Linked DNA regions of Homo sapiens. The protein of the gene in region 1 purifies or fractionates together with the protein of each later gene. This does not show direct contact. Each region holds a gene or a part of one and is shown in the gene's direction. Other genes may lie near its edges.

Region 1 (7,022 bases):
AGCTAATTTTTGTATTTTTAGTAGAGACGGGGTTTCACCATGTTGGCCAGGCTGGTCTCGAACTCCCAACCTCAGGTGATCCACCCGCCTCGGCCTCCCAAAGTGCTGGGATTACAGGCCTGAGCCACCACTCCTGGCCTGCCCCCTACTTTTTAATGGCTATGTCATATTCCTAGCAGGACTGTACCCATGATTTACTGGGCGTTCTCGCATTGATATTTCCCCTCTTTTCCTTGTATATACATCTTTCTGCATGTCTGCATATCTTTAGGTTGCATCATTAAAAGTCAAATTCTTAGGTCAAAGGTTCCATAAATTTTTATTTTAATACTATAAAATTCTCCTATATTTGCCTTTAAAAACATTTCTTATCTACCACCTGTTAATGTTTGGAGCACAGTTGCTTTTTTTTTTTTTTTTTTTTTTTTTTTTGGAGACAGAATCTCATTCTGTCGTTCACGCTAGAGTGCAGTGGCACGATCTCAGCTCACTGCAACCTCTGCTTCCTGGTTTCAAGCGAGTCTCCTGCCTCAGCCTCCCGAGTAGCTGAGACTACAGGTGTGAACCACCATACCTGGCTAATGTTTAAAAAAATTTCTGTAGAAATGAGGTTTCATTATGTTGCCCAGGCTGGCCTCAAACTCCTGGCCTCCTGTCTCAGCCTCCCAAATTCCTGGGATTATACGCAAAAGCCAACATGCCTGGCCAGAAAACAAATCTTGAATGCTATTTCCTGCTTTATTTTCCAAGATTTTTATGACTTCTTCATGCTTTTGTTGTTCTCAGGAAGACCTGGCAAACGCATTGTGGGCACGATGCAAGGTGGAGACTCCGATGACAATGTAAGTCCCCCGCTCCCCTCAGTGGTTCTGTGCACTCTGGGTTTGGCTGTCCCCATAGATGGGAGTGGCTGAGTTGCTGTCAGCAGCCAGGGAGCCGTCTATGGTCAGCCCGGCCGTGCCTCGATGCGTGGCAGGGTTTGGCCTCATGAGGCTCTGGACTCTTCGTTGCTCGTGGATGGCTCATCTCTTTTCAAGTGAATGTGCTTGCTCTGCTTTTTTTGCCTTCTCACTGTTCTTTCCATTCTCGCTTTCCAAAGATGGAAGCAGCACCAGCTCTCTTAGGTAAATGCAAGACTTCCAGCTCCAAGAAGCAGGTTGGTTTTCTGTTCTGCCTCATGTGTTTGTGGGTGTCTGTCAGCCCTCCCGGGGCCAGCCAGGGGCCTCTCCCTAGGAGTGATGCTTCCTCTCTCCTGGGCAAAAAGGCCACTCAAAAGAGATCCTGTGGTGACAGCGGGATCACTGAAGGCCCCTGTGCTAAAGTGGAGGCGCAGGCACGGAGCCTGGAGGCGGGGAAAGCTCAGGCCGGGCCATCCTCAGGCCCTGGGCCGCCACCTAGAAATGAAGGAGGACGCCGAGGGCCGGGCTCAGGACCAACCCCCCTCCCTGTTCTGTGCTGGGGACGGAATGGTGAAGCAGCACTGTCCCCAGACCAGGCCCTCGAGGTGCCAGGCATGAGGCTGAGACATAAGCTGCCTTGAGCTTTACTGAGTGGATAACTCCCTGGAGCACTTAAGCAAAAGGGGATTCTAGGGGTCCTCAGTGAGGTCCAGTCATCAGGGCTCTGCCGCCCATTGCTCAAGCCTACGTTCTTTGTTGCGTCCCTGGCAGTGCTGCTCGGCCCACACAGCAAAGGGCGACTCAACAGAGACTGACCCCAGGCTGCCTCCATGTGCCCTGAATTTACAGGGCACAGTCTGTAGAGAAGCAGAGAGAGCAACTGGAAAATAATTTTCCTAACAAGCTCGGGTGTGGATGGTATACAGCGTCTCTCCGTCTTGCCCACCCAAGACAGAAGCAGAGGGAGTGTGGCGTGGGTGCTGGCAATGCTGAGGCAGCACCGCCTGCCTCTTCTCCAGGGTTTGCCTTCTCTCTCCTCAGAGCGAATGCATTAGTCGCAGCTGAGCTTTATGCCTGGTGGTCACTTGTTTATTTCAAGGAGGCTGTGTCCATGCCGCCCTCCAGGCACAGGGTTCCATGCTTTACGTGTTCAGGCATCCAACACGTGTCTGTTGAGTGCCTGCCACATGCCAGTGCTGTCGTGGATTATGGGGAACGCAGCAGGGGCAGAGGCAAGCCCCTGCTTCATGGCTCACACCCCAGCAATAATGATGGATTGTCGGATCAGGGCTCATGGTGTTAACAGGAGGAATAACAGCTTCAGGGGACAGGGAGTGACAGGGAACAAGGAGGGGGTGGCGTCTTCTGCGAGGTCAGTGAAGGCCCCTGACGTGGTGGTGTTTGAGCAGGGCCTGAGTGGAGGGAGCGAGCGCATGGGTTGGCGGCACCTGGGCATGTGGAATGCACTCCTCGCATCGAGGAGCAGAGGCAGCTGGTGTGATTGTGGGTGAGTGCGAGAGGCAGCAGGGGCCATGCAGAGCTTTGCAGGGTGAGATGAAGACTCTGTTTTCTCTGAGTGTGAGGGGAAGGCCCTGAAGAATCATGAGCCCAGAAGGGTCAAGAGCTGATGATCCCTGTTTGAGAGAAGCCAGTTAGGAGGCGCCTGCACCCGTGGAGGTCAGAGGTGACGGTGCTTGGCCGAAGGTGTGGCAGCAGAGGTGTTGAGAAATGGTCAGGTCCTGGGTCTCTCTAAGAACCATCAGGTTTTGTGAATTGATTGGACATAGGCTGTTAGAGAAAGAGAAAAATGAGGGTGCCTGGGCTTGGTCTAATCAGCAGAAAGCAGAGTTTCATTTTCTGAGATGGGGCCGACTTGACAAAGGGGCTTGGAAGGCAGATCGAAAGTTTGATTTTGGACATTCTGAATGTGACAGCCACATGCTAGGGTTGAGTAGCCAGGTGGAATTTAAGTCTGGAGTTCAAGGGCCACGTCTGGGCTAGAGATTGAATTTTGGGAGCCACCCTTATTTGGTTGGTATCTAAGCCACAAGGATAGATGTGACTGCCTAGGGAGAGCAAGTAGAATGAGAAGAGAGGCGACCCAAGGTCCTGAGCTGCATCTGCCCTGCAGAGGTCCGGGAGGAAGGGGCAGGCAGAGGAGGCTGAGGGGCGTCAGCAGTGAGGAAGGGGGACCTGGACTAGAGAAGGGGCCCTGGGGGATGGAGAAGATGGGTTTTAAGGATGAAGGGGTGATTCCACAGCTCAAGCAGGATGAGGCCTGAGAATCGATCCCAGTCCGTTGAATGTTTCCTTCTTGACAGGAGCAGTGCTGGGGTCAGTAGGTGAGAGCCCGGGGGAACTGAAGCAGTCGTGAGGGGCACAGGTGTGGACAGTGAGTTCAACGACTCGCTCAGGAGCTTTGTGTGAGGGGAGAGAGACAGGGCAGAGCAGCTGGAGAGGAAGGTGGGATTACCTTTGGGGTTTTTTTTCAAGAAGGAAATTACAGCATGAGTGTGCACCGACAGGAATGATCTAGATAGAACGACCAGCCATCCTGGTTTACATGGGACGCAGGAACTGCCGTTTTAAAGCTGGGCTGAGTTGGTCACCCTGGAGCCCTGGATCCGATGAGGAGAGAGAGGGTGTGTCTTTCACTTTGCTCCCTTTTTTTCTTTTTTTTCTTTTTTTTTTGAGATGGAGTCTTGCTTTGGAGTGCAGTGGTGCAATCTCGGCTCACTGCACCTCTGCCTCCCAGGTTCAAGCGATTCTTCTGCCTCAGTCTCCGGAGTAGCTGGGATTCACTTTGCTCCTTATACCAATGTCTATGTTGCTTTCCATCCACAATCTACAAAAAGCCAAAACAGGCCTCCCTTCCCTCTCTCCAAGCCCCTGTCCTTCTTGCCATCTGTAGGGGGAGTCTCTAGGTCCAGTGGCCCTCAGCGCAGATGCAGAGTGCTTCTTAGACGCTGCGGGAAAGCCAGCCCCTGCAGCACCACACCCAGATGCACCTGCAGTTTGGAGGATTCTGGTTGGATGATAAATTCCAGCTGGCAGTACATAGCCTCAGTCCCATCTGTATGCCCTCCCACAGCCTGCTTGCCACTCTGCCAGCCTCTTCCTTCACACAGGGATGCTGCTATAGAAAGGGAGGCAGAGAGTCTTAGGACAAGATGTCAGGAATGAGGCAGGATCCCCCGTTGCATCTGCCATTTTTTTCCTATAGGAGGACTCGGAGGAGAGTGAAATTGACATGGAAGATGATGATGACGAGGATGACGATTTGGAAGACGAGAGCATTTCTCTCTCACCAACCAAGCCCAATCGAAGGGTCCGGAAATCTGAACCCCTGGATGAGAGTGACAATGACTTCTGACCCTTTTGCCAAGGGACCCTGGCAGATTAAAACCCTCAGACTTGTAGGTAAATGGGAACTTAGAAGGTTAGGAAGGTAACCCCTGTTTTGTTTACTAAGCTGGCTGGACTCATGATCACTGAAGCAATACTTATTTCTGCTTTAGCCTCCTATGTTTGCATTCCATGAAGCTTAAATAAGAATTGAAGCAAATCCCTAAGATTTATTTTTTTCCACCTTATTTATCTTCTAAAACTTGAGGAATGCATGTGTTCTTAGTGATTCACATCCACGGGACAAAAACTCAAGAAGAAATAAGAGCTGACGCCACACAAGTCTTGGCTGCTTTTGTTACTATACATTTTCTCTGAGACTCCAGCAGAGTTGGGGCTGGAACTTGGCACTGGGGACTCATGTTTGGAATCGTAGGGGAACATCTGGCTGTTAATCACTTGCACAGTTGAGAACATTTCCTATACATCGGCTTTTAATTCTAGCTCTTATTTCATTTTGTAATCTTATTTTCTTTCGTCTGCATGTTCACAATACCAAGCATTAAATGTATTTTAATAACTAAACTTTTCTGAAAGAAGGTTAGCTAAAGTTAAATGAAAACTTGGTTTCTTTGAAAATCAGGCAATAGAGACAGGCTCCAGATGAGGAATCCTCCATTTTCTGTCCGAAGCTGACATTCCTCTGGCAGTCCAGTTCACCTTGGATTACAGCCACCTTCATGTTTCCACGGTTGGTACTAAATCTGGAAACTCTGGTGACCTGGGCTGCCCTCTCAGAAACTCCAGACTCCCATGGCAATGACAGCCGGGACACTTTTCTTCCCTCCAGCCAGGGTTTCTCTAAAGGAGCTTTGTTTTGTCTAAAGTGTGGCAAGACATAGTGCACAACACAGGGACAAAGGCAGGTTTCCTGCAGCTCGCTACCTAAGTGTTTCTGTAGGGGAAGGAGCCAATTAAGAAAAAGTGTTGGTACAGATTCATGTTTCTGATTTAAAAAAACAACAACACAGGATTGAATTAAGTAGAGTAATAGCACTAGAAGAATTTTTCTGTTGTGAAATTAGAAGTGGAGTTGGTTTTTTTCTTTTTTCTTCTTCTTTTTTTTTAATATGAAAAGTACTTAGCTGGGAGTGGTGGCAAGCGCCCTTGGGTCCAGCTACTCAGGAGGCCAAGGTGGGAGGATCACTTGAGCCCAGGAGTTTTAGACTAGCCTGGACAACTAAGTGAGACTCCATCTCTACAAAAAATTAAAAAATTAGCCAGGTGTGGAGGGGCATGCCTGTGGTCTCAGCTATTCAGGAGGCTGAGGCAGGAGAATCACTTGAGACCAGGAAGTTGAGGCTGCAATGAGCCGTGATCATGCCACTGCACTCCAGCCTGGGTGACAGAGTGAGACCCTGTCTTTAAAAAAAAGAAAAAGAAAAGCACGCTGCTTGTAAAAAGCGTACAGTAGGTCAGGCGTGGTGGCTCATGCCTGTAATCCTAGCACTTTGAGAGGCTGAGGTGGGTAGATCACCTGAGGTCAGGGGTTTGAGACCAGCCTGGCCAACATGGCGAAACCCCACCTCTACTAAAAATACAAAAATTAGCCGGGCGTGGTAGCGCATGCCTGTAACCCCAGCTACTGGGGAGGCTGAGGCAGGAGAATCGCTTGAACCTAGGAGGCGGAGGTTGCAGTGAGCCGAGATGGCGCCACTGCACTCCAGCCTGGGCAGCAGAGTGAGACTCCATCTCAAAAAAAAAAAAAAAAAAAAAAGCATACAGTAAATAAAAAAGCACAAAACAGTTTTCACTTATTTTACAATTAAAAAGTCAGAAGACTTCTGAAGTTACTTATCTTTTAATACATGTATTTAACACCATACTTCATATTATTAAATAGGTTTTACTTAAAAATATAATTATTGTATTTGTACCTGTCAGATATAAATACTTATTCAGGAGTTCACAGGTACGAAAAGATACACATAAATTTTAGGAACTTTTGAGTTATTTCTGTCATTTTTGCTTTTTTCTCTTTCTTTTCCTAAATTTTATGTATAAGATTACCCCTAAAAAAAAAAAAACAGCCAGTATTCAGTGAATTCACCAGTAATTTGAAATGCACCATATTGTAAATGATCCACTGACAGGGAAGCCAGCGTGTTGGAGCCATGCCAGCCACCTCAGACACCGTGGCTCTAAGATGCGGAAGAGTCACTGCATCTTCTTGAATGTTACAGATTTGGTTTGCCTGAATGTGACTTGACTTCTGTTTTGAAAAAACATACGAATAGAGTTCTATTTTCCTTATGTGATGCTTTCTTCTAACACACTTTAACACAGAAGCCTAACCTAGCTACAAAGAGCCTATCCACAGACATAGGCAACAGCTCCAAAGGGTATTTCATTGTGTCACCTGCTTCTAGATCATCTGTTAGTTAACTGACTTTGTGCAAGGTCTCACCATGTATAGCACTGCCTTGCTTGAGCACGGAAGTTTCTGTCAACAGCAAGCTTTATGTGCTCTATCATTTTTATTAAAGTATTTCAGTCAATAGTGACCCATTGTAGAATGGATGCAGGATTCACATGTGCAAGTGCTTTGTGACCTGGCACCATTTGGTTTTGGCCAAGCAGCAGAGCAGACCTCAGGACCTAACGAGGATGGTTGTGATTAGGTCAAATAGAAAACTAGCAGGCCATTGCTGACAATTTTTACTATATAATTAGAGGACTTCCTAAAATGCTTTAAAAAAAAATGTGTATGGATGGAAA
Region 2 (7,022 bases), on another chromosome or scaffold:
TGCAGGTAGGGCTGAATGCCCAGAATTGGGCAAAGCGATAAAGCAGGAGGATCAGCAAAGATTGATGAGGAGCCCTCAGGCCTTCTAACCTAATATAATGAAGAGTTAGAGGATCATAGTGATGGTGGTGTGGCTATTTTCTGGTTTGAGGATTTGCAGGAAAATAGACTTTTTACTTCTGACTTTGGAGATAGGTGAGTTTGGAGTGTAAAGTGTCAATGTTTGAAGCCAGAACTCTAGTGTCCAAATAATTAAACAATTGGGGCAGAAGAAAAGCAGAATAAAATGTTTTGTTTTCAAGGAAGGAAACCCTTAGTAGCAGAGCTAGTCCCTTAGGACCAGAGCTAGTGTTGGAAGGGTCAGATCTGGTCAGAATAATTCACCTGGAGATAACTTCTAACTTGGGTTTCTCTGAAGTGGGTAGTTAAGAAGAAAAGAAAGTGGGATTATTCGTCCTGAGTCTCAACTCGTACTCGCCCATCCTGAACTCTCACTGTCTCTCCCTTTCCTTTCAAATAAGCCCAAACTCCTTTGCCTGGCTTCAAAGACTTCCTGAGCTGGCCTGTTTTTCCTGCCTTACCCCGTCTATTCTACTATTTATAAGGTATAATAGTTTCAAATAAACTAAATTACTGTTTCTTGTCCAGAATTTGCCTTTGCTCATTGCCATTCCTCCCATCTCAGATAACTTCCTACTCAACTGCATTCATTCTTCAAAGCTTAATTTTGATAATTTAAGCATAAAATTCTCTCAGGCTTCTCCAAACTATTGTAGTACTTTATACATACTTTAATAGGACTTTTCTATTTTGCACCATCTTATTAGACGTGGAGGCAGGATCTATGGTTTGCTTTTTGTCTCTCTCTCAGCCCCTGGCCAAGTGCCTTGATCAATAAGGTGCTAAAAAAATATTAATTGAATGAATGGCTAATGACCAAAACTTACCAGACTAATTGAATTTATTTCAGTAGCAGACCTGGAAACGAGGAGGCCGTTGCAGGGATTCATTGATACAGTTGACTTAGCACCCTGCCTCTTAGTGCATTTGCATATGAGTCTCTAGAAGCCTGTTGTTCTCACAGTCCAGGATCTGAAGGCCTTGGAGACCAGCATGGGCCACAGGCATCTCTTTGTTTTGAGGATAGAACCGTGACAGGAAGAAAATTGACCAGTATTACACTAGAATTAATGAAGCTAGAAATGCTTTTGGCATTCTAGACCAGCACATGGGTTTGTTTTTACCCCTTTGCCTCTACAGGATGGAGCTGCAAAGGTGACCTGCATGGCTTGGTCCCAGAACAATGCCAAATTTGCTGTCTGCACAGTGGACCGAGTGGTCTTGCTGTATGATGAACATGGAGAACGGAGAGATAAATTCTCCACCAAACCAGCTGACATGAAGGTAAACAGTGTATTCATGTGTACCTTATTTAACCTATTGATGGGGTCTCACAACTTGAAAGACGTAGTCTGCCTTCTAGCCATCAGCATAGGAAATGGCATACCCCACCTTTTTCTCAGTATAAATCCTCAAGCTCCCTTAGGAGCACACATATGCCTTTTTTTCTCTTTTCTCTTTCATGTGTACTCATTACTTCTTTTTCTTTCTTTTTTTTTTTTTAAACTCTTAGTATGGCAGGAAGAGCTATATGGTGAAGGGCATGGCTTTTTCTCCTGATTCCACTAAAATTGCCATAGGACAGACTGACAACATCATCTATGTCTACAAGATTGGAGAAGATTGGTGAGGATAGAGACTGGGAGATGGGATGGCCCAGGAAAGAAGGGGAAGGCAAGAGAAATGCCTCACTGGGGAGGGGAAATACAGGGGATGAGAAGCCAAGCTTGGCCATTGAAGGCAGAGACTTTCTGGAGTCTGTTTTTGCTTTTCTGCCTTCACCTGTCCCACGTGTTCTTCAATCCCATCCCTGGAGGAAACAGTCCAAGGTCAACAGGAGGCCCTGTGAGATCCTGGAAGCCCAGAGTGATGTCACATCTTTGTTATTGTTCTGAAGCTGCTTAGGCTCCCTCATATACCTCCTTTCAGGGCTCCTACAGAGTAGTCAGAAATACTACTGGGCCAGGGAAGAAATCTGCTCTTTCTTCTCTTCCCTCAGCATCATTTTTGGCAATTTGTTTATGGAAGTGGTATTTATTTATTTATTTATTTTGAGATAGAGTCTCACTCTGTCACCCAGGCTGGAGTGCAGTGGCGCGATTGTGGCTCACTGCAAGCTCCTCCTCCCAGGTTCACGCAATTCTCCTGCCTCAGCCTCCCGAGTAGCTGGGACTACAGGCGCCCACCACCACACCCGGCTAATTTTTTGTATTTTTAGTAGAGACGGGGTTTCACTGTGTTAGCCAGGATGGTCTCGATCTCCTGACCTCATGATCCTCCCGCCTCGGCCTCCCAAAGTGCTGGGATTACAGGCATGAGCCACCACGCCCGGCCTGGAAGTGGTTTTTAATATGTTTCCCCTTCTTTTGTTTGGCAGGGGTGACAAGAAAGTCATCTGCAACAAGTTCATCCAGACGGTAAAGTTCAGACCAGTCCCTGGAACCTTAGGATGAACAAACATATATCAGTATATCTACTTATAAATACAGCCAGGAGTTGCATTTCTAACATCTGAATGTGACTTTTCCTACTGCAAGGATGGTGCTTCATGGCTGTTCATGGTCATCTGCTGTCTTCCTTAGAGCCCTGCTGTGTCCTTCCCTATAGGAGATTGAGGTGGTGGTGTGTGGTGGGGTGTTGAAGTTGTTATAAAAGTGCTGGCCCACACAGATGGGGTTATCCTTTTCATTGTTTCCTTCCACGCAGAGTGCTGTCACTTGTCTGCAATGGCCGGCAGAATACATCATTGTCTTTGGACTGGCTGAAGGGAAGGTAAAAGAGGGAAGGGAAACACAAGAGAGGGGGTGGTAGGGATAATGGTTCTGGAGAGAGGAATATGGTTCATCCTCTTTCTTAGGATCAAGTTGCGTACTGGGGAGAATGCATAGGGACCAGTTTTGTGGGACAGTTTTTCCTTTTTTTCTTAGGGCCTAGTTAAATATAAAATAGCCTAACCATACTTGTATCAATTTTTCCATTTTCAGGTTCGTTTAGCAAACACCAAAACTAATAAATCATCTACCATCTATGGGACAGAGTCTTACGTGGTGTCCCTGACAACAAAGTGAGTAAAGAGGAGTAGTATCACTAGAGTCTGGAAGTGTTAGGAAAATGCTGTGGGGAAGTCTGGACTGCAAGACCATAGTATGAAAGGCAGGAGAACTGGTAGCAGGAAGCACAGACAAGGTTGTGTTTGACAGAGAAAGGGGCTTTCTTGGTGAGATAAAATAGTCTCTTCCTGTATTTCTCTCCTTTCTCCTTTTTTAGTTGCTCTGGGAAAGGAATTCTCTCTGGTCATGCAGATGGTACCATCGTTAGGTATTTCTTTGATGATGAAGGCTCTGGAGAGTCACAGGTATGAATAAAGAATGTTGTGGGAGGCTTGGATTGCTTGAGTCCAGGAGTTTGAGACCAGCATGGGCAACACAGTGAAACCCTGTCTCTACCAAAAAAACAAAAAATAAATACAAAAATTAGTCGGGCATGGTGGCATGGGCCTGTAGTCCCAGCTACTCAGGAAGCCGAAGTGGAAAGATCACTTGAGCCCAGGAGGTTGAGCCTGCAAGTGAGCTGAAATAGCACCACTGCACTACAGCCTGGGTGACAGAACAAGACCGTGTCTCAAAAAAAAAAAAAAAAAAAGATGCTGTGGAATAGGGGATAAGGAAATTCCAGGAGCCCTCCTAGAGGAGGTTGGACTTCTAAGGCATTTGGATTGAGATACTAAGAGAGGAAGCTAGAGGAGAACTCAGGGACAGAGAAAAAGTTGGATGTGGCCACTGAGAGGATTTGTGTTTAGGAGCCTGGAGCTTACTGCTTATAAGAAGGGATGAATTAGGTGAAAGGGACCTTGAGACAAAGGGAAATAAAAACTCTTAGAGTAATGAAAAGTGAAAATTATTCCCATTTATGTAAAATATATATATTTATGTATGTAGATTCATAGAAAAAAGAGTTAATAGTTTACTCTGGAAAGGGGAAAGGAAAAAGATGGGGGATAAAAAGGAAACTTTCATGTTTTACTCTATATAATTGTGTGTTGTTTGAATCATTTACATTAAGAATTACTTGTGAGCCGTGCCTGTAATCCCAGCACTTTGGGAGGCCGAGGCGGGTGGATCACCTGAGGTCAGGAGTTGGAAACCAGCCTGACGTGAAACCCGTCTCTACTAAATACAAAAAAATTAGCTGGGCGTGGTGGCACATGCCTGTAATCCCAGCTTTCTGGGAGGCTGAGGCAGGAGAATCGCTTGAACCTGGGAGGCAGAGGTTGCAGTGAGCCAAGATCGCATGCCATTGAACTCCAGACTGGGCAACAAGAGTGAAATGCCATCTCAAAAAAAAAAAGAATTACTTGTATAGGCCGGGCACAGTGTCTCACTCCTGTAATCCCAGCACTTTGGGAGGTCAAGGCGGGTGGATGACCTGAGGTCAGGAGTTCAGGACCAGCCTGGCCAACATGGTGAAACCCCGTCTCTACTAAAAATATAAAAATTAGCCGGGCATGGTGGAACGTGCCCGGAATCCCAGCTACTCGGAAGGCTGAGGCAGGAGAATTGCTTGAACCCGGGAGGGGAGGTTGCAGTGAGGTGAGAACGCGCCACTGCACTGCAGCCCCGGCGACAGAGTGAGACTCCATCTAAAAAAAAAAAAAAAGAAGAATTATTCGTATAATACTGAAATTTGACCCTCCTTAAAAAAAGAAGCCCTATGCTCTTTGTGGGCCCAGACGGTGTTGGTTAATGTGTAGCACATCTCCTTTTCTGAGGAGCTTTACCAGGTGCATATTAAAAATTTCCAATACATGCTGGGCGTGGTGGCTCACGCCTGTGATCCCAGCACTTTGGGAGGCTGAGACGGGCTGATCACAAGGTCAGGAGTTCGAGACCAGCCTGACCAACATGGTGAAACCCCATCTCTACTAAAAACAGAAAAATTAGCCTGGTATGGTGGCACACACCTGTAATCCCAGCTACTCAGGAGGCTGAGACAGGAGAATCGCTTGAACCTGGGGAGGCGGAGGTTGCAGCGATGAGATTGTGCCACTGCACTCCAGCCTGGGCGGCAGAGTGAGACTCTGTCTCAAAAAAAAAAAAAAGAAAAAAGAAAATTCCAATATACAAGCATTTTGAGGTTTTTCTAGAGCACAAGGTCAACCCCTATGTGTATAGGGGTGTGTGTGTGTGTGTATGTGTGTGTGTGTGTGTGTGTGTGTGTGACAATTTGTGAAGAGTTCAGGATTAGGATGTGTTGGGATAGGGAAATGTTGGAAGAGATTTCTGCAGGGTATGATGGTCAGAGTGAATGTACCAGGTGTTGAGAGTGAGGAATTTCTCGGGTGGAGTCTTCGAAGAGTGATTGAAACCCTCTACTTCTGTCTTAGGGGAAGTTGGTTAACCACCCGTGTCCACCCTATGCCTTGGCATGGGCAACCAATAGCATCGTGGCTGCAGGCTGTGATCGGAAAATTGTAGCCTATGGAAAAGAAGGTCACATGCTACAAACTTTTGATTATAGCCGTGACCCTCAGGAGCGGGAGTTCACCACAGCTGTATCAAGTCCTGGGGGCCAGTCTGTTGTGCTAGGAAGTTATGACAGGTAAGTCCCCTTTCCAGTTTTATCTACTGCCTACTTTCCCTGCGAACACTCTCTGCTTTAGCCAAATTATTCTGAGCCAGAGTGCGAGACTGGAGCAGAATCAAATGTATGTATGTAATTCATGCGCTTTCCTCTTCCTGCTCCCGCTATCCATTGGTGTGCTGGCAGTTCCAAAATGTCCTGGGCTCTTGTTTTGTCTCTGTGCCGCTCCCTGCACTTCCACAGCAGAATTCATCTCTATTTTCTGTTTCCATTGCCCCCTTTGAGACCGCTTAGAGTTTCTCACATTATATTACAGTTTGTTGTTTGCAAACTACTGTTGTTTAGCCAGATAGATGGCTAAATCAGAGTCCTTGAGAAGGGGGCTTATTATTCATCTTTTCAGTGCCTAGATTAGCATCTATATGCTATATATATTTAAGATATGCTCAGATGTTTGGCGAATGAATGAATGAATGATGGAACAGCAGATAAACAGCCATGTTCCAGGTCTCATCATTTCTCTGGCATGTGTTTAACCCCAGCTTTATCAGTCCTGTCTTTCTATCCCCTTCAATCTTATGTCTCCTTGTATTCTCTTCTTTCTTCACTGACTCCTACCATTTATCTCCTTGTTCCATATTTTTTTGCTCCTAGTAGCTTATTTTTCTCACCTGCCCTGGTCTTTTTGTTTTCTCTGCTCCCCTCACTCTTATTCTGTTTTAGTTTTGCCTTGATTTTCCCAGCTTATTTCCTGTGCACCTTTATATCCTCTTCTGCTAGACTGCCTAGCTTGTCTGTTCTTTTTATTTCCTTTCTTTTCTGATATAGCAAGACTAATTTCCTTTGGTTATCAGCCCATTTGCACTCTTTAGCTCAGCCTCAATCTCTTCTAAAAGCCACATACTTTATTTCAGGCTTCGGGTGTTCAACTGGATCCCTCGAAGAAGCATCTGGGAAGAGGCAAAGCCCAAGGAGATTACCAATTTATACACCATCACTGCCTTGGCCTGGAAGCGGGATGGCTCACGGCTCTGTGTGGTGTGTTACTAGTAATCCCTTTCTGGATTGGTGACTTTCACCAAACTAGAAAAAAATCCTGCCTTATCCTAAAGCACTGTTCCCTGACACTATAGAATCTCCTCTTTCCTTTTGACCCTGACCTAAAATTCTGGCATTAAAGGCAGGAAAGAGAAATTCATACTTTACCCTAGGTCACAAAAGGGACAAAAAATTGTGTGTAGGCAGGGCTAGTTTTTCCCTTTTATCCCATTAATATGTTGTGCCCTTGAGTCCAATGATTGTAGCCTCTTTCCTTTTGGTAAT
Region 3 (7,150 bases), on another chromosome or scaffold:
CTCTCGGCCGAGTCTCACACAGCCAGCCCACCTGCAAGGTGCAGTGTAGGAGGAAGCAAGGCCAACAGTTAGAAGGAGATGAGCCCTGGCCCCTTTCATCTGGCCTCTGTCTAGGTGACCAAAGCTCACTTGGTCCTGGATATAGTTAGCAGCATGAGGAGTGATGTTCCTAGGACCAGTGGACAGCATGGACGCTGCCTTCTAGAAGGTCTTAACTCCCCATTAAATCCCCAGCACTCAGACAGTAATCCATACATAGCAGTGATTCAGTAAATGCTTGAATGATACTTGATGTGGTATCTTCACTAGAGATATATGAATATTTAGCAAGGGCAGGGAAATATGCTCAAAATCACTAATCACTACAGAAATGTAAATAGGAACCATAACAAGACACCATTCCACACCCGTAGAAAGATGAACGTTAAAAAAGACTGACAGGGGCCGGGTGCGGTGGCTCACGCCTGTAATCCCAGCACTTTGGGAGGCTGAGGTGGGTAGATCTTGAGGTCAGGAGATTGAGACCATCCTGGCCGACATGGTGAAACCCTGTCTCTACTAAAAAATACAAAAAATATCTGGGCGTGGTGGCAGGCACCTGTAGTCCCAGCTACTCAGGAGGCTGAGGCAGGAGAATGGCATGAACACGGGAGGCGGAGCTTGCAGTGAGCCAAGACAGTGCCACTGCACTCCAGCCTGGGCGACAGAGCAAGACTCTGTCTGCGGGGTGGCGGGGGGGTGCAGGTGGGAAGACTGACAGGCTGGGCACAGTGGCTCACACCTGTAATCCCAGCACTTTGGGAGGCCAAGGCGGGCAGATCACCTGAGGTCAGGAGTTCGAGACCAGTCTGGCCAACATGGTGAAACCCCATCTCTACTGACAATACAAAAATTAGCTGGGTATGGTGGCGGGTGCCTGTAATCCCAGTTACTCAGGAGACTGAAGCAGGAGAATCACTTGAACCCAGGAAACAGAGGTTGCAGTAAGCTGAGAGCATGCCATTGCACTCCAGCCTGGGCAACAGAGCAACACTCCATCTCAAAAAAAAAAAAAAAAAAAAAAAACCCAAAAACAAAAAGAAGAAGAAAAACAAAAAGACTGACAATACCAGATGTTGGCAGGGATATGGAGTAACTTGGGATTCAATATATTGCTGGTGGGAATGAATGATGATGCAGCCACTTTAAAAACAGCATGGTAGTATTTGTAGAGTTAAACATATTCTTACCATACAACCCAACAATTCCAATACAAGAGAAATGAAAACTTTCACAAAGACTTGTAAGTGAATGGTTATAGCAGCATTTTTTTTTTTTTTGAGACAGAGTCTCACTCTGTCACCCAAGCTGGAGTTCAGTAACACGATCTCAGCTCACTGCAACCTCCGCCTCCCAGATTCAAACATTTCTTGTGCCTCAGCCTCCTGAGTAGCTGGAATTACAGATGCACCCCACCACGACTGGCTAATTTTTGTATTTTTAGTAGAGACAGGGTTTCACCACATTGGCCAGGCTGGTGCTGAATCCCTGACCTCAAGTGATCTGCCCACCTTAGCCTCCTGAAGTGCTGGGATTACAGGTGTGAGCCACCATGCCTGGCCAGCAGCATTATTCATAAAAAATAAAAAACTGAAAGCAACCCAAATGTCCATCAACTGATGAATAAACAAATTACACTATGAAATACCATTCAGCCACAAAAAGGAATGGCATATTAATATACGTGTAACAATATGAATGAATCTCAAAAATATAAGAGAAATAATGAAATACAAAAGACTGTGTACTGCATGATTCCATTTATATGAAACTCTAGAAGAGGCAAAATTATAATGACAGAAACCAGATTAGTGGCTGCCTGGGGCTGGGGTGGGGAAGGAGATGGGCTGCAAATAAGCAGCAAGAAATGTTTTAGGGTGCAGGGACTGTTCTGTATTCTGATTGTGGTGGTGGTAACATAATTGTATATAATTACCAAAATGTATCAACCTGCACACTTAAAATGTGTGAATTTTATTGTATGTAAATAATAAAATATAAATTTTAAGTAGAAGAGACCCCCACATCTAGATATACCATGTGCAAACTTCTGGCAAACCAATAATAAAAATAAAATCTTGAAGGCAGCCAGAAACAATAGACAGAAGAACAAAGAATTACGGAAGACTTTTATTCAGAAACTACGCAAGCCAGAAGTCAATGGAGTAACATCCTTAAAGTACTGAAAAACAAAAACAGTCAGTCTAGAATGCTACACTTTTCTTTTTGTTTGTTTTTGTTTTTTAAAGACAGAGTCTTGCTCTGTTGCCCAGGCAGGAGTGCAGTGGTGCCATCTTGGCTCACTGCAAGCTCCAACCCCCGGGTTCAAGCGATTCTTGTGCCTCAGCCTTCCAAGTAGCTGGGGTTACAGGCACACACCACTACGCCCAGCTAATTTTTATATTTTTAGTAGAGACAGGCTTTCACCATTTTGGCCAGGCTGGTCTCAAACTCCTGACCTTAAGTGATCTGCCTGCCTCAGGCTCCCAAAGTGCTGGGATTACAGGCGTGAGCCACTGTACCCCTAGAATTCTTTTTTTTTTTTTTTGAGACGGAGTCTCACTCTGTCACCCAGGCTGGATTGCAGTGGCATGACCTCGGCTCACTGCAAGCTCTGTCTCCTGGGTTCAGGTGATTCTCTTGCCTCAGCCTTCCTGGTAGCTGGGATTACAGGCGCCCGCCTCTGCACCCAGCTAATATTTTGTATTTTAAGTAGAGACGGGGTTTCACCATGTTGGTCAGGCTGGTCTCGAACTCCTGACCTCCCAACTCTAGAATTCTATACTTCTATGCTTAATAAATATTTGTGGCTGAATTTACTGGAGGTGGTTATAGGGGGACATGGAAGGAAAACTATAAAAATGCAATTTAGTATTTGTTGATAAACCATACAGCCTGACTGGCATTGAAATTGGTTGTCTGTATAACTTTTCCATTACCAACTGAACTGTGCTAGAAGAAATATTAAAGGAAGTTCTTCAGACAGGAGGGGTATGACACCAGATGGCGATTTAGATCTCCACAAAAAATGAGGAGGCCTGAAAATGGTAAAAATGAAGGTCAATTTAAAAGTTATAATGGGGGCGGTCGCGCACACCTGTAATACCAGCACTTTGGGAGGCCGATGCGGACGGATTGCCTGAAGTCAGGAGTTCCAGACCTGCCTGGCCAACATGGTGAAACCCCGTCTCTACTAATAATGCAAAAGCGAGGCTGGTGTGGTGTCGGGAGCCTGAAGTCGCAGCTACTCATGAGGCTGAGGCAGGAGAATCACTTGAACCTGGGAGGTGGAGGTTGCAGTGAGCCAAGATCGTGCCACTGCACTCCAGCCTGGGCGACAGAGTCAGACTTCGTCTCAAAAAAAAAAAAAGGTTATAATGGTGTTCTCATTAGAAGAACTACAGACCCCAGAGCTCTCAAATCGCCGGAAGGATTTCTGCGGTAGGCCTGTGCATGATGGACAGAGGACAGGTGGTAAAGAATCACGGACACCTAGTAGGACAACTAGGCATGGCTTTGTCCCGGTTTCAGAGCACCGACACAGCATTTAGTCACCATTTACCTTCTTGGGAGGTGGGTTAGGCAGCGGGCACACTAGTCCTGCTTTGTGGGAGCAGAAGTGAAGTCTCAGAGAAAACAGGTGACTTGCCCAAGAAGCCTTATTAATTACCAGCCAGGACAGCGTATTTTCTATTCCGTGTGTTTTGGGATAACTTAGTGCCGTCCCCTCCGATGAACCAGTGCCTTCGAAAGCCCTTGAGATTTGGGAAACAGGCGGCACAGATCTTGGAGGTTACCTTGTTCTTAATCAGTCCTCAGGCAGTCGCCTCTAACGCGAGCGAACACCGGCTTCCCGAGGCCGTCGCTCGGCAGAGGAGGGGCCAGGCGCCCGATCCCAGATCCCCTTTCCCCGCCCCGCCGCGCCCCGCCTGCTCTGGCACAGCCGCACTCCCGCAAATCCCTCCCGCGGAACCCCCACTCCTGCCTGCGCGGGCGCTGGAAGGCGGGCAGGGGGCGGGGCGCCGCGGCGCGTCCGTTGCTAAGGCCGCGCAGCCCTAGTGACCGAACGCCCTGCGGCGGCCGCGCAGGCGCTGTGGTGGGCTCCGGTGCACTGTGGGATGGAAACCGGAGCGGCGCGTCCTGGCAGGACCGGGCGGCGGCGGCGGCGGGGCCGGCGGCGGCCAGGGACCCGGGCTTAGGCTCGGCCAGGCCGGCTGAGGGGCGCGGGCGGCCAGCGGGCGGCGGACGCCGTCATGAACGCGGCGGTGGTGAGGCGGACGCAGGAGGCGCTGGGGAAAGTGATTCGGAGGCCGCCGCTGACCGAGAAGCTGCTGAGCAAGCCCCCGTTCCGCTACCTGCACGACATCATCACGGAGGTGGGCGCCGGGGACCGGGCCCGGCCAGGTGCGGGTCGGGATTCCGGTGGGCGCCGAGGTCAGGGCCCGGGCCGGGTGGCGCCGGGTGCGAGCCGGGCTCGGGCTCAGGTGCGGGTCGGGGGCCGGGGCTGGGCCGGAGTCGGGGCCCGGGCCGGGTGTGAACCGGGTGTGGGCCGGGCTCGGGGTGCAGGTCGGGGACCTGTTCAGGGCCGGGTGTGGGCCGGGCACAGGGTGCGGGTCGGGGGCCGGGGTCAGTTCCGGGGTCGGGGCGAGAGTTCTGTGCGGCCCCTGCCTGGGAGCCCGGCCTGTAGGCCCAATTCCGCGGCGCCCTCCGTGAGGAGGTCCTGCCCCTCCCCCGGCTCCGGGCCGCCGCTTACAAGGAGGCTCCGGGCCCTCAGGAGCATTCTTACTTCTTCCCTGCCTGCCCTTGTATTTCCTTAGAGTGCATCTTCCATTATTGCTGGCAGAGCTGCTTCTGTGACTCCTGCCTCGTCTAACCTTGCAGAACCCCTCTCGCTTGCCCTGAAGTATGTAGCACGTGGAAGGCACTCCCTAAATCCTGGGAGAATGGAAATAATATTTTTTATACAACCCTTCTGCCCCAAAGTTTCCCTCCATACCACATTTTGGGTGCTTAATAAATGCCTGCGGGTGGATTTAGTGGAGGCGGCTGTAGGGGGACTTGGCAGGAAAGACTGTAACAGAGCTGCACAGCCTGCCCTACGTTGAGATTGGTGGTCTCTGTAGCTTTTTCCACTTGCGGATGGTGTGCTCCTCCGTGACGGAGACCCTGGCTTGCTTATTAGCATGGCTCTGGTGATCTGCACTGGGTAAGGTACATAGAAATTGCACAACAAACATCCCCTGTTGAGTGGGACCTGTCAAGGCTCGTGGTAACTCCCTGGTAACTCTCAGGAGCGTCACTGCAGCGGGCGCAGCACCCATTTCCATGGTGGACCCAAGGGCACGTGGGAACTCAGAGGTGTGTTTTGGGATTTAGGATTCAGGTTGGACTTGCAGACTTCCAGGGCCTCATGACCTCACCTGGTGATGGTCCTCAAGCTCTGTTTCTCACTCTTTTCAACAGGTTGGGTGCCTTATTCTTGCACAGACTTTGCTTTACTGGTTCTGCCCTCCTACCTTAGCTTATAACGTGTGGTCTCCTGGAGCGTGTGCCTCTGTGTTAAAACAGTGCCTAAAAATGCTCTCGAATCCACCCACATCCCAGGGCCTCGCCAGCCCTGGTCATGTCCTCCCAGCTGGTGCAGCACTTACAGCCTGTCCTGGACAGTGTGTGGGGAGAGGACCTGCTGTGTGGATAGCCCGGTGGGAGGGGGACAATGTGCCGCATCACCACCGTCCCGTGAAGTAGGCGGGTACCCGTCCTCTGACCCAGAGGGAACAAGAGCCAGTGTGAGCCCAGCCCACTCTAGCTGTGGCTGCCAAAACCTTTATTCTCCCAGGCCTGTCTGTCCCACTGAAATGCAGAGCCCCAGGAGGGAGGTGCAGGGAGTGTGCCTTATCCTTGTGGGGCAGTGATGGCGCTCAGCTCACGGTGGCTGTCCAGTCACTACCGCATAGTTGGTCAGAGGAATCCTAATGGGAGAGGAGGAGGAACATGGGCTGGGTGCTGTGGCTCACGCCTGTAATCCCAGCACTCTGGGAGGCCAAGGCGGGCAGATCACTTGAGCCCAGATGTTCAAGACCAGCCTGGCCAACATGGTTAAAACTCCATCTCTACTGAAAATACAAAAATTAGCTGAGTGTGGTGGTGCACCTGTAATCCCAGCTACTCAGGAGGCTGAGTAGGGAAGATTGCTTGAGCCGGGAAGGTTGAGGATGCAGTGAGCTGTGATTGTAACACTGCACTCTAGCCTGGGTGACAGAGTAAGACCCTGTCTCAAAAAAAAAAAAAAAAAAAAAAAAAAAGAATTGCCTTCTTGGCCAGGTAGATAGGGTGTGTGGAACGAGTTGCATGTTCCCAATTAGGAACGACTGGTCTGCTCTTCTCCCATAGACTTCCTCATCTAATGCCAAAGTTGATTTCTCTCCCTGTGTAAAGATAAATAAATTATGACCTACTTGATAAAGTTGTTAGAATGACTGACATATTGGAAAGGATTTTCAGATAATAGGTGGAGAGCCTCTTATGAAAATGCTTTACTGTACTGAATATTATACACACATTGCTATATTAGTATTTTAGCTATAGCTACACTAACCACCCCGTTTCATTAAGCTAAGTGTGGATACTGTGACGTTAATGTCTCTTGTCACTTACAGTTATTGTTCACAATTTTTTTTTTTTTTTTAGAGGGATTCTTGCTCTGTCGCCCAGGCTGGAGTGCAGTGACACAGTCTCCACTCACTGCAACTTACGCCTCCCAGGTTCAAGCAATTCTCCTGTTTCAGCCTTCTGAGTAGCTGGGACTGCAGGCACATGCCACCATGTCCAGCTAATTTTTCTATTTTTAGTAGAGATGGGGTTTCGCCATGTTGTCCGGCCTGATCTCGAACTCCTGACCTCAGGTGATCCGCCTGCCTCGGCCTCCCAAAGTGCCGAGATTACAGGTGTGAGCTACTGTACCCAGCCTATTGCTCACAATTTTAACTGCCAGCATCCTGGGAAAACCTCAACAGGGACAAAATGAAAATGTTCCAGGAATGTTAAATGCAGGATGCTCTTAATATTCTACCTGTCATCTCAAGAAAAACAGTAGCATAGCTCTTACATA

Evidence for each region. Proteins that work in one complex are often made in the same cells at the same time.
Region 2: the proteins of CLUAP1 (region 1) and IFT172 purify together in Homo sapiens (affinity purification with mass spectrometry; 2 studies listed by BioGRID and IntAct, with this or other methods). This does not show direct contact.
Region 3: the proteins of CLUAP1 (region 1) and TRAF3IP1 purify together in Homo sapiens (affinity purification with mass spectrometry, with the first as the bait; 2 studies listed by BioGRID). This does not show direct contact.

Annotation. Positions count from the first base shown.
Region 1 is NC_000016.10:3,532,000-3,539,021, forward strand, and holds part of CLUAP1 (clusterin-associated protein 1), read left to right. Parts: intron 1-786; coding exon 787-842; intron 843-1,099; coding exon of another isoform or gene 1,100-1,156; intron 1,157-4,122; coding exon 4,123-4,272; 3' UTR 4,273-7,022. UniProt on the Homo sapiens protein: Required for cilia biogenesis. Appears to function within the multiple intraflagellar transport complex B (IFT-B). Key regulator of hedgehog signaling.
Region 2 is NC_000002.12:27,479,741-27,486,762, reverse strand, and holds part of IFT172 (intraflagellar transport protein 172 homolog), read left to right. Parts: intron 1-520; exon of another isoform or gene 521-604; intron 605-1,259; coding exon 1,260-1,403; intron 1,404-1,632; coding exon 1,633-1,745; intron 1,746-2,496; coding exon 2,497-2,536; intron 2,537-2,596; exon of another isoform or gene 2,597-2,735; intron 2,736-2,825; coding exon 2,826-2,891; intron 2,892-3,103; coding exon 3,104-3,183; intron 3,184-3,386; coding exon 3,387-3,474; intron 3,475-5,502; coding exon 5,503-5,717; intron 5,718-6,613; coding exon 6,614-6,737; intron 6,738-7,022. UniProt on the Homo sapiens protein: Required for the maintenance and formation of cilia. Plays an indirect role in hedgehog (Hh) signaling, cilia being required for all activity of the hedgehog pathway.
Region 3 is NC_000002.12:238,316,371-238,323,520, forward strand, and holds the start of TRAF3IP1 (TRAF3-interacting protein 1), read left to right. Parts: upstream 1-4,147; 5' UTR 4,148-4,292; coding exon 4,293-4,415; intron 4,416-7,150.